2 linked regions of the Homo sapiens genome follow. The protein of the gene in region 2 interacts with the protein of the main gene of each other region in a biochemical or structural test. Each region holds a gene or a part of one and is shown on either strand. Other genes may lie near its edges. The genes, in order: BACH1 and MAFK.

Region 1 (3,051 bases), on a different chromosome or scaffold from region 2:
ATCGATACCCTGGGTGGGTAATTGTTGTGAGGGCTGTCCTGGCCTCTGCCCCTAGAAGCCATATCCTATACCCTGCCCCCGAGATTTGTGTCTCTGGGAACTGCCAAGTGTCCCCTAGGCAAGCAAAATCATCCCCAGCTGAGAATCACTATGATTAGACCAGAAGACTTTGCCCTGGATGGCCAATACCGCTGAGCAGCTGCCCAAAGCTTGGTCAGAAGGGCCTGGTTGGAAATTGAATAGGATACAAAGAGCTGACTCGGCAGATAAGTTTTTAAAACTTAATGACTGATAGAGATAATACCCCTTAAGAGTCCCTATACTTCTCTATCCAAACTAACATTAAGTAAAATCAGAAGCAAAGCTAAAATCTGTGCTTCCTAAAACACCTGAATGCTGGAATTTTTTTTTTTTTGAGGCATGATTATCATCAACTAAGGAAAGATTCTCTCCTACAAATTCAGATATACTAATTACCGATCAAAAGACTAAACTGAGTAAATCCACATGAAGTGAGAAAATGAAAATGGAATGTACAATTCTATTCAATTAGAAGCAATTTTAGAGAATTTTATTTAACTGTCAACTTATCACCAACATCTAACATTTTTTAGTTCAGGTACATTTGGGTAAGAACATTAGGGAGAAATGTAAATTAAATACTATGAAACTATGCTTTTAATGAAACATGGTCTCAGTAAAATATGGACACAAAAGTTTAGTGGTTTTATTGCATTGTTAGAAAATTATATTATGAAAGATATAAAAAAATCAATGTTTTTCTGCTTCTTTTATAATCAGTATGCCATCTTCTACCATTATGGCTTTAATTTTCATTCTACCCAACAAGTTTCAAAGAATAGTTTATTACATGCCTTAATAAAACATTTAAAATATTTACAGATTCAAAATAGATGTTTTATAACTGAAAAAAGTTCACCTGAGAATTCACCGTAACATTGCCATTTTTTTCCCAAGTTGTTAATGTGACTGAGTGTCCACATGCAACCTGTATCGTCTACTGCATCTAACATACTTATTTCCTTATTTAAAATTAGTTAAGCAGTAAGCTATAGCAAACTGTTAAAAAAAATTACAGATGGAGAACCAAGACTGTATCCACATTTGTTTTGAATATGACAATTTAACGAATTATTTGCTATAGTTCCAGAATTTGAATAAGAAAAAAAATAAGGTAATGTTATTTTACTGAATTCAACATAACAGCTTTTAAAAAATCATCAAACATTGAGAAGGCCAGTTCATAAAATAGTGAACAATGATCATGTGAATATGCAATATACAAACTGAAAACATTTCAAAATTCTGCATGAAGGAAAAGGCATACACTGTATACTCATAATCCTGTCATTTGTCTTCGGCAGCCTCAAAAAAAATATTGCCTTGAAACATTTTCTTAGAAAAAACTTCTTTAGAAGTTAATGTTAAAATAGGCATAAATGTGTAATGCTATGCAATATACAGAAAACTTTCCCACTTATGGCCAAAAGACAAACGTAAAATCTTTTTTATCTGTCCATCTGCATTACAACTTGAAAATCATGTAGATATGAGGTAGTGTAGTTACTTGTATTACATGCTGGCTATTTAAAGTAATGCTAAATTTTAAGAAATTACACTTGGCCAATAATTCTGTGTCATTAATAGAAACCCTTAATGCTAAACTGTTTATAGGTAGAGAGAAATTTAAACCAAGTGCTTTACAAATTATATTTAAGCTCTGGAGACAACTACATTTTATCATAAAATAGTAGGTAATCTTTCAAAGCAAGTACAGTAGCAATTAAAGCAAAAGATTATTTGACATTTGCACATACACAAACTGATACAACCAATAGTTGGGTGTACACTGAGGTAGGAAATCAAGGGTTCCATTGGCTTAAGATTTTACATTTTGTAAACCAGAAGTTCTTATATTATTTTATATCGTGAAGCTGAAATTTAAAATTACAAGTATCAAAGAAATACCTATATGGAGAGATATATATGTATACATACACATACACACACACACACACACACACACACACACACACAAATTCTTTTGCAGTATGGGATGCACTATCAGAATTATTCTCCCTGACAAATTCTTGAGTGTACTTATAAAAGCTACTAGAAAATAAACAAGTCCAACTAATTTTCTCTTACAAATAAGTCAGTGACAGAGAGAACATACAAACCACTGAAAATATACTAGCAATATCCTCCCCCTACACCCTGATCAAAAAGGGTAACATTTGACAAATTACTCCAAGACATGAAGACTGGTCCCCATATACTCTCAAGGGCAAGGCCAACTTGCTTCAGACTTGTTCATACACAGTGGGTGGTGGCTGCCCACATTAGCTAGACAAGCCCTGCACTAGGCTCAGGATGCAGTCTATAGAAGTGTCTCTTTCAGCCCTCTGATTTTGGTGAAATCAACACTATAAACTACTCCTCTGTACCATTAAAACTGGGTTCTGCCAATGTTTCTGTGAATGTGAATATATGCATTTTTTTTAATTGCTGAGAAGATCCATAGCTTTCATTTGACTCTCAAACACATCTAACCCCAGCATGGCTAAAAGCCACCGCAAAATGTTATGCGATAGGTGCTCAGTTATCTATTTTGTAACAGGACTGAACAAACACTAAGACTGATCTTTAAATGTCCAAGTTAAAATGATTTGTGTGTCTTTATACCACACCAAATTTGGAGAAGAGAGCAAGGATTCAACCTGCTTTTCAAATGCAAACCCACAATAGAAAAAGATTGAGTTTCATCCTATTTCACAAACCTGCAGAGTTGCTGCAGATACATTTTTTATCTGTTACAATCATTTTTACAAGTGAATAATACGACTTCAAAAACAGGGTGAAAAAAATGAACTGCACTCCTGGTAAAAAGTAAGCAACATTCTTTCCCCGTGATGTCTGGTTTTCTGGCATTGGTGACCCACGGTGGAAAAATGAACAGCTTTACATGTTGGTAAGCTCTCCAGATTCTAGGGAGCCTGAGATAATGCTGCCAGTGTAATCACTCATGCC
Region 2 (3,166 bases):
GATTGCTTGAGCCTGGGAGGTCGAGGCTGCAGTGAACTGTGATCACGCCCCTGCACTCCAGCTTGGGTGACAAAGCAAGATACTGTCTCAAAAAACTCGAGTTGGGATTTCACCCTGCGTGGTCCAGCACTGAACAGCGTTCACACCTCGGTCAGCTCAGCCCCAAAAACGGGGAAGGCCGGGCGGGGTGGGGACGGCATGCGGGCAGGCCCGTGGCTTTTCGGAGGAGTCCACGGGCTTCCGGCCACTGTGCAGGGGCGCTTTGCTCTCTGCTCCCAGACAGACCCTGTCTTGCTCACAGCTTCCTGCAGGCTCCTCTGAGAGTCCAGCAAAGCTGGGCGAGATGTCTCCCAGGGAAGGGGAACACTGACAGCCGTGCTGCTCTCTGCTCCTTCCACTGGAAGGGAGAGGCTGCATGGACAGGGGGCTCCGGGTGGGGCAGATGGGGACACTCAGGACTGCGGCCTGACCCTCAGAGACTGAGCCCAGGACGTGGTCACCTGACCAGCACCTCCCCCGTGGCTGTCCCAGCCTCACGGTCACGGCCCAGCAGTCCGGGAAAGCCACTTACACGTAGTGCCCGGATCCTGACCCCGGTGAGGGACAGGCAGGGTCCCCTGGGATTGGGGGGGGGGTGTGGTTCTTGGCCCAAGAAAGCCCCAGCTGAAAGCACCAGCTACGCAACGAAAGGGTCTGAAACCAGAAAATTCTTTATTGCAAAGGTACAAAAGCAGTCACAGCAGCAGGACGCACGGCAATAAATTAGGTGGTGGCCGCAGGGACGGGGCAGGGCGGCGGCGGCCAGACACGGGCCCACATGTGATCTGTTTTCAATAATTTATATCATGATAAAAAGCAGCACAAAAAATAAATAATGAAATGGAACTGCCAAGTAGCACAGAAGCCAGGGTGAGGCGGTGTGGCGGCGTGGCGGCATAGGGGGCCGGGGTCCCCACGCCCTGGAAACGCAAAGACCTGGATCTCTTTGGGAAGCCGGAGGCACGGAGACAGAAAACAAACCCACGTGACAAAGAGTCCCTCGTCTTTTTCTTAAATAAAAAAATCCATATATTAAATCATGACAATGAAATTTCAACAATCTGAAAAGAAAAGCAGAACACACCGTGCTTCCCCGGCCCAGCTCTGGGCGGTGACAGCGGCTCCGTCCACCCTGGGGACCAGGGAGTCCCTTCTCCAGCAAAGCACTGCAGGCCAAGGGCAGGTAGAAGCCCACGGCCCACAAGACGTGGACACCAAGAACCCCAAGACGGGACAGAACCGGCCACCCGCTGCGGCCTGTCCTGCGGGGCCCAGCTGCCTGGTACAGTCCGTGGGGAGATGAAGGGGGACGGCGGGCAGCCCGGGCCTCCGCTTTGCTCCCAACTCCCACCTGTGCCCGTGCCCCCGGCTCTGCTCTGATAGATTTACAGTATCAAACTGGAAAAGAAAGATTGTTACGAAAAATCTGTAGATAAACTGTGAATATAATTTTATATCTCTATATATTTTCTGTTTCTCTCTTTAAATATCCCCCTGGTCCTTATGACATCCAATATGGATTACCTACCACGGCCACGGGGGCAACGGCTGTTTGGGAACACGCAGGCCTTTGCTCTGTAGGGACCCAGTGGTCCTGGCGGGCCTGCAGCTTCCCACTCAACTTCTAACAGTAGACACAGAACCAAGTCGCAGCCCCGGGGCTGTCTGTCCTCTGCCCTCCCAGCGTGGCTGGCACCCGCCTGGGCTCTGTAGCTGGTGGGGGCTGTTACTGGGTGGGCAGGGGCAGCCGAGAAGGAGCCAGGGCCCCAGGCACCACCTTGCAGGTCTTATGTGGCGGCCCCCGGCCGGCGGCTCACATTCCGCCAGCTCCCCCAGGCAGGGGCTCCGCAACCCCCGCGGCTCTCGCTGCAGAGACCCCAGTCACAGGAGGGACCCTCAAGGCGGCTCTCCAGGAAAAGGAAGCCCAAGGTGGAGTGCCAAGCCCACTGGTGCCTCAGTGCTCTTGGAAGGAGGAGCAGGCAAAGGCTCCGGGTGAGGACTGAGTGCTGAGGCCAGCCACACCTGCAGCCCGTGGCTGTGCTCCTGGGGGTGTGCGCGCAGGAGCCACGTCCACGAAGCTCTCCTGGACTGGTGCCTGCTGCCTCCCCACCCGCCGCGCCCTCTGGAGTGCCAGGCTCACTCCTGAGCTCTTCTACAAGCCAGCTGCATCCTGGTCCTGCCCCTCAAGGCTTTCCACCTGCTCTCGCACACGGCTCCCGCCTCCTCCCACCACTCCACGCAACGTCCTCCTCCTTCCACCTCCACATCCATGTCCACCAACATCCCCCAGGCTGCACCCCCTCTCCCTAGACTGCAGCAGCCCTTCCCCTCGCCAGGCCCCCAAAAGACCTCCTCGTTCCCCCTGCACTGACCACAGTTGGTGAGAAGTAGCTCCAGGACACACAGCCTGAGTCCTGCTCACCGTCAAATGATGGGGCGCTCCTGCCTGTGTCCGCTGAGATCCGGGACGGCCTGTGGGGTCGGTGTCTGGGGGGCCGGATCCCGTGGGCAGGGGCTTCTGCGCTGTGCTGCACGACCTCCTCGGGTCACCAGAGCACAGGGGAGACCTCACGACGTGTGAGCCACTCTCTCTGCCATGTGTGCCCACAGGCCCTCCCCCAGTGAACACCAGCAAGCTGCACCCCCTCAGCCCTGCTGCTTTGATGGCAGGCGTGCGTGCACACACACAGACACCACCCCACGCAGGCGACCTCCCACACCGTGCCCACTCACGCAGGCCCCTGCTAAGGCAGACGCGGATCACGGGCACTGCAACGGGACAGCTGGAAGGACGGAGCTGCCGACACACCATCCATGCTCCTCCCCGGGGACTGCGGAGTCGGTCAGGGCAGTGAGGGGCTCCCGCACCGGCTGGGAGGCCGTGGCAGGACAGGTGTCGAAGGCTGCTTACAGCAGGAGTGGAAAACAAGCCCCATGCTAGACCTGACCACAGGGGCCTGACTCCTGGGGCCGTGTCTTCCGGCAGCCCCCACAGAGGACGCGGAACTTCCCGAGGGCCTTTCCATTATATGTCCCGACTCCCACGGGTGCAAGATACCAATTCCCACACACAGACACATCCTGCGGGGAGCAGGTGGCGGGCGTGAGTGTGTCTGTGGACCGGCGT

What was found.
Region 1: the proteins of MAFK (region 2) and BACH1 form a complex in vitro, tested with the Homo sapiens proteins (one study listed by BioGRID).

The regions. Positions count from the first base shown.
Region 1 is NC_000021.9:29,343,642-29,346,692, reverse strand, and holds the end of BACH1 (transcription regulator protein BACH1), read right to left. Parts: 3' UTR 545-3,051; downstream 1-544. UniProt on the Homo sapiens protein: Transcriptional regulator that acts as a repressor or activator, depending on the context. Binds to NF-E2 DNA binding sites. Plays important roles in coordinating transcription activation and repression by MAFK.
Region 2 is NC_000007.14:1,540,570-1,543,735, reverse strand, and holds the end of MAFK (transcription factor MafK), read right to left. Parts: 3' UTR 693-3,166; downstream 1-692. UniProt on the Homo sapiens protein: Since they lack a putative transactivation domain, the small Mafs behave as transcriptional repressors when they dimerize among themselves.